Linked DNA regions of Homo sapiens: region 2 is linked to region 1. The links come from fine-mapping of genetic effects on gene expression. A gene starts in region 1. The other region holds a variant in brackets. All regions are shown on one strand. Distances are between the middles of the regions.

Region 1 (5,375 bases):
GTGTGCCCCATGGACCAGGTCGTTTGTTCCTGACCTCAACTCCATGAGGTTCTCTTTTCCCCATTCTGTCAATGAGGAACCTCAGCTTAGGGAGGTGGAGCAGTCTGCTTGGGGTCACAAAGCTGAGGATCGGCCAAGCCCAGCTGTGAACCCCACTGCTAGCAGACAGCCCTTTGGAGCTCCCCAAATTTGGAGAAAATCCTCTGGACCCGTTCTATGGCCTTCTTGGGATTGTTGGCTTCTCTGGCAGATAAGCTGGAAAAATAAACAAGAGGATCAGAAAACTCCTTTTGCCTCCTGCTGTTCTGAATCTGCTGAGGCCACAAGGGGGTCATCCAGCTGCCTCGACAGCCAACATTAAGCAGGCAAATGAATGAATCTTGAGTATGATAGCAGGACATGTGAAGTACTGCCAGAAAAAAAAACTATCAAAAAAACAAAGAAACAAAAATCAGTAAGAGGAGATGACTGTTTTAGACCAGGTGGCCAAAGACAGCTTCTCTGCAGTGACAGCTGAGCAGAGATAGAGGCACCGGGGAGGTGGTGGAAAGAGCAGGCTGTGCGAAGAATGCTCCGAACAGAGGGAACAGCACGTGCAAAGGCCCTGCAGTGGGACCTCTAGGGAAAGATGGGGAGATCAGTGTGGCTGGAGCAGAGTGGGTGAGGGAGAGAGTCGGGGGCATAGGGTCAGGCAGGTAAAGGTGAGAAGGGGCGGATCATGCTGGTTCTCGAAGGGCCTTGTCAGGACCCTGGCTGATAAGGATGGAAGCCAGGAGACCAGGAGGAGCAACAGCTTCTCCAGAGCTCTGCTGGGACTATGGAATGAAACGTGCCTAAGCTCACCCGGCACTGAATGGGTGGATACAGGACTAGAACAAGACCTCCTGGGTCTTACCTCCAGGTTCAGCCCATGGTTTCATAAAACTTAGTGTGCCAAGCACTCAACAGTTTGTGATTCCTTTTAGTGTCAAGCTCTCATCACTTCCTCACAACAGCCCCAGAGGTAAGCACAACTCTGCCCTCCCTGTTTCCAGATAATGAGGTGAGCTCAGAGAGGTTGAGCTACCTGCCCAACGCTTCCCAGGGTGGGAATGGGGATGGTGGGGGCAGGGGCGTGGAGTGAGGCTGGATTGACCCCCAGTTCTCATCAGCACCCTGGGGTGGTACATTGCAGAGCCGCGGGCACAGGGGGCTGGCACCCCAAGCACCAGGTAGCGATGACAATGGCCACCACATCCGGAGGCCCTAACGTGCACCAGGTAGAGGGTGCATACTTCACGGGCACTATCTGTCCCCAAAGCAGGTGAGGATGAGGGGACTCCCTGAGACACCCTTGTACCCCCTGCCCAGTAGTTACTGAAGATACTATAGGGTGCGATATAATCCAGACCAGCCCTCCCAGCCCAGACCACAGAATGGAAAACTCCAGGTCCCCAGCACGCCTGGGGTGGGGGATGGGGTGAGGAGGAGCCTTGGGGGGTTTCCTCTGTCTAGGTGGAATGTGGAATGTGGTGGGAAAGCTCCTCCTGACCCCCTTACACTCCTCCTCCATGTTCGTCCCCTCCCACCACATTTTCTCCTCCCACTGTGCCCCCTCCTCCCCATACCTCCTTGGCTGTTTCCCCATCGTCCCGCCGTCTTCCCACATTCCCTCCTCTTCCCTTCCCCAAAAGTCCTCTCCCATCTTCCCCATCCCTCTTCCCTCCCCGCATATAATCTCTTCCTTCCTGTAAATCCTCTCCCTCTCCCCTCCCTTCCATCACCCCCCAGTCCACCACATCCCCCTCAGTCCCCCATCTATCTCCTTTCCCCTTGATCACTCCCCAGCCCACCACATCCCTTCCGCCCCCTCCCCCTCCCCCTCCTTCTCCCCTCCCCTCCCTCCCACATTTTCCATCAGGCCTGAGCTGGGGGGAGCAGGGTTTCTAACAGAGCGCCCCGGTCCGACCCCTGCGGACCTCGGAGGGCCCCATCCCCCACCCCCCCCACCCCGCCCCAAAGCGGGCTGGGGTGGGCGGAGTGGGAGGGGCGCGCCGGGTGGGGGCGGGGAACTTTACCTGGGAGTGGGCCAGGCCGCCAGCCCCGCCAGCCCCGCCAGCCCCGCCAGCCCCGCGATGGCTTGGGCCGCGCTCCTCGGCCTCCTGGCCGCACTGTTGCTGCTGCTGCTACTGAGCCGCCGCCGCACGCGGTGAGTGTCCTGCTCCGCTCGGCCCCGCCAGACAAAGGGGGCGGCTCCCGCCCGGGCTGCAGCCCAAGGGTCTCGGAGCCCGCGGCCGGCCCGGCCCGAGTCCCGCTCCAGTATCCCGGGCAAGGCGAGACCCTCGGAGGTGGGAGTCCCGGGGCCCCGCACGTGGGTGAGGGGGCCAGGCCGTGCTCCCCCTGCCAAGAAGGTGCAAGGTGGGAAGGTGCGGGGTCCGGTAGGTCCCCCGGGGCGAATCGCCCACCGCGACAAGTCCGAGTCTGGCCCTTAGCGCGACGGCAGGGACCTAGGAGGGGGTTTCAGGTGAGGACCGAGGGTTTGTGGGTGGGGAGCCGTGCGGGGACAGCCTCTGCGTGGCCCGGGTGGAAGAAGCGCTCTCCACTCTCCAGCCTCTGCCTGCACCTGGCACCCACCTACGCGCTGTCAAACCCTGCCTTGCTTTCGGCAGTCCTATAGGGATAGCCTCGCTCCTCAACCCATTACACAGATGGGAGTGTTGAGCCAGCGGAGTGTAGAGCCCCTGGGGGATGTCTTGATCATGCCCTGGAACCACCCACCCCGGGATTCCCCGTCTGGAAGACGGGGGTCGGTGGGCTTAGTAATTTCATTTGCCAGGGAGAAACTGAGGCCTATGAAGTCTCTACCTTCCCCTGAGGTCCCACAGCCTGGACAGAACGGAGCCAGGGTCAGATGTCACAGCCTCCTGGTCCCAAAGGTTTTCCAGCTCCATTGAGCATCTGTGATTTAGGAGAAAAAGTAAAGACAGCCTCAAATCAAGGAGATAGCTGTAGCTCTCCTTTTCATAAAATATTTTTTAAGTTAACTTGAATTGCATAAGGAATAGCTGAATACATTCGACTTAACACAAATATTTATCCTGTTATAGGTAAGACCGAAGCCCCTTAACCCTCCCCCAGCCCCTGAAGTCTAGTCCTCTCTCCCTCTCTGGGCCTCTCCTGTTGCTGAGTCTGGGTAGAACCTTCCATATTTAAAAAAATATACTTTTTATTTGAGACTAGTTTGGGATTTACAGAAAGTTGCAAAGATAGTACAAAAAGTTCCTGTATTTCTCTCACCCCGTTTTCCCTATTGTTAACATCTTACATTGTTATGGGACATTTGTCGCCACTAAAAACCAACACTGGTCCGTTACTCTTAACTAAACTTCAAACTTCACGGGATTTTATCCAGTTTCCCATTACTGTCCTCTTTTGTTCCAGGATCCGGCCCCAAGTTACCACATTGCCTTTAGTTTTCATACCTCCTCAGTCTCCCAGATGTTTTAAAAATTACTCTTACATAAAAATTACTCTTACATACATAGACATGAGCTTGTAGCTAATACAGAGCCACGTAAGAGAGAGTTAGTTTACATTCGTGTCTGAAAATTCCGGAAACCTTGGGAACTTTTTGATTTTTAAACAATATGGTAGTTGAATTTTCAAACAATAAGCTCACTGTATTTTTCTTCAACCTCCAGACATCTTTTCAGCTGAAATTTACAACTGTGTAGTCAATCATTTGCCTTAAAACAAGAAAAGAAAAAGACAGTGAATAAATGTCTCAGGGAAGAAATGAATTATTTTTCCTGTCAGGCTTTCTCAATACACTGTATAGAAATGTTTTCAGACATTATGTTGCTTGCTCTTTTCACTCCAGATTTTAGTTTTGACATCTGTTCTTTTTGCTACAAGCAGATCTTTTTGCTACAAGGAGATCGAATCCATTCTTTTGATCCTCTCTGGAGTCTTCCATCATGTGAATACGTTATGGGCTCTTTTTTTGTTTGTTTGTTTGTTTGAGATGGATCTTCCCTCTTGTTGCCCAGGCTGGAGTGCAATGGCACGATCTCGGCTCACCGCAACCTCTGCCTCCTGGGTTCAAGTGATTCTCCTGCCTCAGCCTCCCCAGTAGCTGGGATTACAGGCATGTGCCACCATGCCCAGCTAATTTTTGTATTTTTAGTAGAGACAGGATTTCTCCATGTTGGCCAGGCTGGTCTCGAACTCCTGACCTCAGGTGATCTGCCTGCCTCGGCCTCCCAAGGTGCTGAGATTACAGGCGTGAGTCACCGCGCCCTGCTGAGCCTTTGATTTTTATACCTGTGGGCACCTTGGAAGGGTCAACAGTGGGTAGTGGGGAGAAGTGTGGGAATGAGGGTCACTGGCAGCTTGAGGGTAGGTGCATGGACCCTGGGGACCCCAGTTTAGATCCCCAATCTCACTTTCTCCTTCCAGTTCAGCTAGGGACACTCTGGTTATCTCCATTTTACAGAGGAGGAAACAGGCTCAGAAAGGCTAAGCAACTTGCTCAAGGTCTGTCTGGATTAAAACTCTGGGCTGTAAGAATTTTTAGCTTTTACTTTTAGTGATAGGATCTCACACTGTGGCCCAGGCTGGAGTGCAGTGTACAATTATAGCTTACTGGAGCCTTGAACTCCTGGGCTCAGGTGATCCTCTCATCTTAGCCTCCTGAGTAGGTGGGACTACAGGTGTGTGCCACCATGCCCAGTTAATTTTAAAAATTTTGTAGAGATGGCATCTTGCCATGTTGTCCAGGATGGTCTCAAACTCAGCTCAAGCGATCCTCCCACCGCAGCCTCCCAAAGTGCTGGAATTACCGGTGTGAACCACCACGCCTGGCTTTGCAAGAATTTTTAATTCACAGGAAGAATGAATTCTCAGTCTTCCCACACATTATACTGGTAATCTGAACACTCAAAAGTCTTAGAACCATGTGACTTTTAGATACTAAGAAATGCAACTACAAGCAAAAAATTCTTAAAGAAGGACAATGGCCGGGAGGGCGGATCACGAGGTCAGGAGATCGAGACCATTCTGGCTAACACGGTGAAACCTCATCGCTACTAAAAAAAAAAAAAATACAAAAAAAATTAGCCGGGCGTGGTGGCAGGCGCCTGTAGTCTCAGCTACTCAGGAGACTGAGGCAGGAGAATGGCATGAAGCCGGGAGATGGAGGTTGCAGTGAGCTGAGATCCTGCCACTGCACTCCAGCCTGGGCGACAGAGCGACTCCATCTCAAAAAAAAAAAAAAAAAAGGGCAAACAAGTGAAACAAGTGGGTGACCCTGATGCCGTCTGAATGGTGATCCAGTTTGGGTTAAAATAAGCAAGGCTCTCCAGCTCCCTTGTCTCATTTCTTTATCCTGACCAAGC
Region 2 (5,375 bases), 26 kb before region 1:
CGTGCCTTCCTGGAGCCAACGCCTGGTGTGTTTGGTGTGTGTGGTCAGCAGACTCATGCGCCCTTCCCCAAGACGTCCTCATCCCTGGAACCCGTGAATGTACAAGGTTACACGGCCAAGGGGAATGGAGGCTGCTGAGCAGTCTCCTTGAGCTGGGGGAGACGACCCTGGATTACCCAGATGATGACATCGTGACCCAGTGTCATCACAAGGGGCTTAGTGCAGGAGGGAAGCAGAGGTGTTGCAGGCGGAGGGATGCAGCATGGGAAAGATGGCCTCGCCGTTGCTGGCTTTGAAGATGGAGGTTGGAGCCGTGAGCCCAGGAATACAGGTGGCCTTGAGAAGCTGGAGGAACGGATTCTCCCTGTGAGCCTCTAGAAGGAACGTGGTCCTGCCCACACCTTGATTTTAGCCTGCTGAGACCCACTGTGGGCTTCAGCCCTCCAGAACTGTAAGCTCACACATTCATGTTATTTCCAGCTCCCAAGTTCACGGCGATTTGTTACAGCAGCAACAGGAAAGGGAAACACAAATAAACACGTGTAACATATGTGTCCCACCATCCTAAGCACAGCAGGGTCAAAGGAAGCCAGATGGAGGCTAAGGACTGTGGGGGATGTTTGCATTTTTAAACAGAGTGAACAGGTAGGGAGGGTCTCACAGAGAAGGCGACATTCAAGTAGAGGTCTACAGTAAGCCATCTGCATAATGGGTGAAGTGAACCAGGCAGAGGGAATAGCGTGTGCAAAGGCCCTGAGGTGGGAGCAGGGCTGCTGTGTTCAGGGCTGAGCAGGCACCATTGTGCCTGCGTAGAGAGATCAAGAGGGGACAGAGGGAGGAGAGCCCATGGAGGTTGTGGGGGTGCGGGTCAGATGAGGGCCTGGTGTATTAGAAGCTGCTGGACAAATGCATTCCAAGGTCCTACGAGCCATGCGGGGACAGAGCTCCCAGCCTCCAATGGCAGAGCATGTTTCTCCAGAAGCAGGGCTTGATCCGCCCTGTTCCCAGCTCTGCCCAGGCCTGCTGAAGGGGTTTGCACGTCCCTGAAGTAAGGAAGGGGTGTGCTTACCCCCTCTCTGCCACCAGCTCTTACCTTCTAGGCCAGCCCATTGCTTGGAATGTTTTCTTCATCCCAGTGCCTGATACAGCCTGGTCCTGGCAGGAAGCGGAGGCTGCAGTGCACCCAAACAGAGATATCGTGACCTTCCTGTCACCCTGGAACTGCCAGGCCTAGAGGAGAAGGCGGCACTGCCTCCCTTGGGATCAGGGCTCAGGGGTTGCCCTGAGCTTGGGCAACAGGGCTGCAGCCGAAGGAGAAAGGTCACTGTTTCCTCTTCACTTCCTGTGCTCTGTGACCTGGGGCTGGTGGCTCACCTTCTCTGGGCTTTGATCTCATCTGTGCCACGAGCAGTTAGATGAATCATGAGTTGCAAAGAAACGGCCTGCAGCCACATCCCGTCCACAGATGTGTTTAAATGTTTTAAATTAGTTGCCAATACTTAGAAATTGGGAAACTTCTTGTAAATCTCTAGATTTCTGGTTTTTCTTGAGAAACCAGATATGGCAGTGCTTGTGACTAGAGCTGAGTAGCAGCTGCCTCCGTCCCCACCCAGCTCCCTCGGTGGTTTCTGGCTCCTGCCTGGCTTTTGGAGTCTATGAGTTTGCAACCCTGGGCTCTAGAGGCCCTTCCAGCTCGGATTTCACTAATTCATGCAACAGAAATCCTTTGAGTGTTTAACATGTGTAGGACTCAGAGATAAGTCTGTTTTACAGATGATGGAAGGGAGGCTCAGAGAGGGGTTGTGACCTGCCAGAGTCACACAGTCAGTGGCGGGGGCTGCATCTGAGCCACACTGGCAATAGATGATCGATCCAAAAGGGCTTTAGCCAAAATTCATTGAATACTGACTATGTGCCCAGTGCCAGACCACAGCCCCTAACCAGACAGACAAGATCGTGACTTCCTGGGCCGATATGGCAGTCCCTGGAGCCGAGTGATCAACAGATAAATATGTAATGACACCTGGGCTAGCTGGGAAGGTGCAGATACAACCTGGGGTGGTCACAGGGAGGGAGGGGGCGACATTAGCGCAGTTTCCTAAGGAATGAGGGTTTGAGGCCAGACTCGGTGTGGACTCCCTTCCTCCTCTCATGTCTAGTATGGATCCTTTGGCAAGGGCCAGGAGACTGGAAGGGGAATCCCTCCTTGTGGCCGATTTTCCACTAAGACGGTGGTGACGCGTGGCTCAGGAGCCAGGCTGCCCGCCAGGGTGTCTGCTGCTCATCCACCATGCGACCTCAGACAGGGACTTAATCTCTCTGCACCTCAGTCTCCAAATCTGTAAAATGGAGTCAATTTGGGTGTCTAGCTCACAGGGGCGTGGTGGCAGGATGAAGTGAATTACAAATTCTAGTAAGTGAGTCACCTGGGACATTGGGCTGTGGTCTACAGTGAGGTGTGATCCCTGAGGAGAGAAAGAGAGGCTACAAAGATCAGAGCGTGTCCATCCTCTGAAGGACTGGTCAGGGATTAAAGGACTGTAGGAGACGTGGGACACGTGGTAGGTAAAAAAA[A/GA]GCGGCCGTGTGTGCTGTGTAGTCCGATCTCATGGACAACGGTGGGACTTGAACCACTGCTGACTCTACCTGCAGGAATTTTCCACCTCGGTGGAGGGTGGGACTAACCTCCACAGGAGGCTGGGATTAGTATGTGGTCATCTATCCTCTGGTGAACCCAGCCAGCCGGGGGGCACCTGGGCAAGGGTTTGAGGAGGAGGGAGGAAAGTGGAAGGGAGGGAAGACGGTTGTGCCTGGAGGCGCAGAATCCTGTGTCTCCTGGCAGGGAGGAGCTGGGGTTCTTGGCCATTTCTGAGCAAACAATAATGTCTTCCCAATACATTGCAGGCTCACCACTGCCATTCTCTGTGTGCCTGACAGAGACAGAGATGCACAGGCCTTTCGCCCTCCACCTCCTCTCTCTCTCTCTCTCTCTCTCTCTCTCTCTCTCTCACACACACACACACACACACACACACACACACACACACCCCCCACCTGGATGCATCTTCACCTCTCACCCCCTTTTAATGTCCCAGGAGTTCAGCCCCAGCTCAGCCTGCTGGTTCAATGCAGGAAGAAAAACCACAAGTTTCCATTTTGTCCATACAGAGAAGGGACTGGGGCCTCAGTAGAGAGGCAGTGCCGAAGCCCCAACCCCTCACCCCACCGCCTTTTGCTCCCCATCATCCTTGGATCTCCCAGGAGAGGAATTATCCCAGATCAGAAGAAGATGGAAGCAGGAATGAGGGAGGGTAGAGGCTGAGAGACACCTGTACAGTCCTGCTCTGTCCCTCACCTGAACCTTGCAGGCAGGTAGTGAGCCTTCAGTAAATGTTACATGGATGGATGGATGGACTGGTGGATGAATGGGGGTAGATGGGAGAATAGATGAATGGGTGAGTGAATGAGTAGATGGGTGAGTGGGTGGATGAATACATAGGTGGATGGAAGAATAGGTGAAATGAGTGGGTCAATGAGTAGATGGGTGGATGGATGGATGGATGGGTGGATGGATGGATGCATGGGTAGATGGATGGATGGATGGATGGTGGGTGAGTGGATGAAAGGGTGGATGGGAGAATAGATGAATGAGTGAGTAAATGAGTGGATGGGTGAGTGGATTGAGGACAGATGAATGGGTGGGTGGGTGAATGGATGGCTGGATAAATGGATGGATGGATTGATAGACAGGTGAGTGGATAGATAGATGGATAGATGGGTGGATGGAAGAATGGATGAAATGGGTGGGTAAATAAGTGGATGTGTGGGTGGGTGGGTGGATGGATGGGTGAATGGGAGAATAGATGAATAAGTAAATGAATGGATGGGTGAGTGGATGAATGGATGGATGGATAGATGGATGGACAGATGGATGAATGAGTGGGTGAGTGGGTAGATGGATGATTAGGACTTAATCCTGAGAATACTGGACTTGGAGGAAAATTACTGGGTCATTAGGATCCTGACCACAGAGTCATCCAGGCCAACTTCACCTCCTCTCCTCCTGGTTCCCTCAAGCCCAAGCATCTTCAGGGAGAGGAATCTCCTCAGAGCAGGAGGATAGAAATACAAGGTAGAAAGGGAGCAGGTAAGGGATGAGAGGACCTGTGGGAACATGGGTCTGGACGAACAATAACCCAGCCTCTGTGGTATCTGGCTTTGTACAGCTCTGGAGTCAGGCAGCCGGGGTTCAAATCCCAGCTCTATTGCCTCCTTGCTGTGTGACCTTGGACAAGTTACTTCACCTTCCTGGGCCTCTGCTTTTTCATTGGCCAAATAGGGTAAAAATAGTACTTCCATGAGCTAAAGGTTGTTATGAAGACTCTGTGGGAGGACGTGAGGCATTTTGCACTGGGTGTGACATGCTGTTAGTCTCAGTAAACATCAGTGACTATTATTTCATGCTTGTCATTGTTCCATGTGCTTTCTATAAATGAGCTCATTTGATTCTCTTAATCTATGAGGTGTGGGCTAGTATTTTTTCCATTCCACAGATAAGGGCTGGGGAGGAGTCCTTGGATGGCTCAACTGGAAGGAAATCTCCCCAGACAGCTGCTGTTAGCAGGAAGGGAGTTTGGATCTGGGGCCTTCCACAGGGTCTGCGGCAAGTGGGTGTTGGGATGAATTGGAGAAAGATCATTGAGAAAGCCTCGGGTTGGAGTTAACTTGTCTTGAACACCTCTCTGACACCTGCCAATCTCCTTTTTAAGAAAGACACAACAGCCTCAGGCTTAAATTTTTTTTTTCAAGAGAGTATCGATTTTCTAAAGCCTCAGGCTTAGAAACTACAGTAGCAATCATACCCTGTGAGAATTTGATAACTTTTTCACATCTTCATGGAATTTATATGCATAGGGTTTTCCTTTCTTTCTCTCTCTCTCTTTCTTTCTTTTCTTTTTTTTTTTTTTTTTTTTTTTTTGCTATTTATAGCAAGTATGTGCTGATACTGGCTTTCTGTTTCTAGTGATATTGTCAAGATTCCTTTAAATGAGTTTCTTTATATAAAAAGAAAAATGCTAAGTTGTAATAGAACAGAGGGTATAAAGATGTGGCAAAAACCAAACTGAACACACACACACACACACACACACACACACAACCCCAGAGATCATGGAAAACAGTTTACTTAGCACATGCACGCAGTCATCCAAATCACACTGGCTCTCATTCATTCATTCATTTACATGTTTGTTCAACAAGTACTTACAGAGCACCTACTATGTGTTTGTACACAGAGAACAAGATAAAGTCCTCTTCTTATGGAGCTGACAACAACCCGGCAAAGAATCAAACAGAATCATTTCATCAAGTCACAAGTA

Which allele goes with the higher level. Alleles are on the strand shown, and positions count from the first base shown. SD is a standard deviation of normalised expression in the study named.
In carriers of allele A in region 2, the expression in left ventricle of the gene that starts at base 2,094 in region 1 tends to be lower than with GA alone (small effect, 0.14 SD a copy in GTEx).

The links. PIP is the estimated chance that this variant, and not a neighbour inherited with it, causes the effect. A credible set is the group of variants that fine-mapping cannot tell apart.
Region 2: its variant is the best candidate, but not a certain one, in a credible set for the expression of PTGIS in left ventricle (GTEx, PIP 0.58).

What each region holds. Positions count from the first base shown.
Region 1 is chr20:49,564,856-49,570,230 of GRCh38, reverse strand. It overlaps PTGIS (prostaglandin I2 synthase), which reads left to right and starts at 2,094. Exons shown (of 10, transcript NM_000961.4): 1 at 2,094-2,188. The coding sequence starts at 2,115. LOC101927486 (a long non-coding RNA gene) reads right to left here and starts at 2,187. Exons shown (of 2, transcript XR_244188.4): 1 at 2,058-2,187. RefSeq lists enhancers at 563-1,177, 1,178-1,794.
Region 2 is chr20:49,590,548-49,595,922 of GRCh38, reverse strand. LOC105372651 (a long non-coding RNA gene) reads right to left here and starts at 1,353. Exons shown (of 4, transcript XR_001754713.2): 1 at 1,094-1,353. RefSeq lists an enhancer at 1-162. The variant A/GA (reference allele first, on the strand shown) is at 2,575.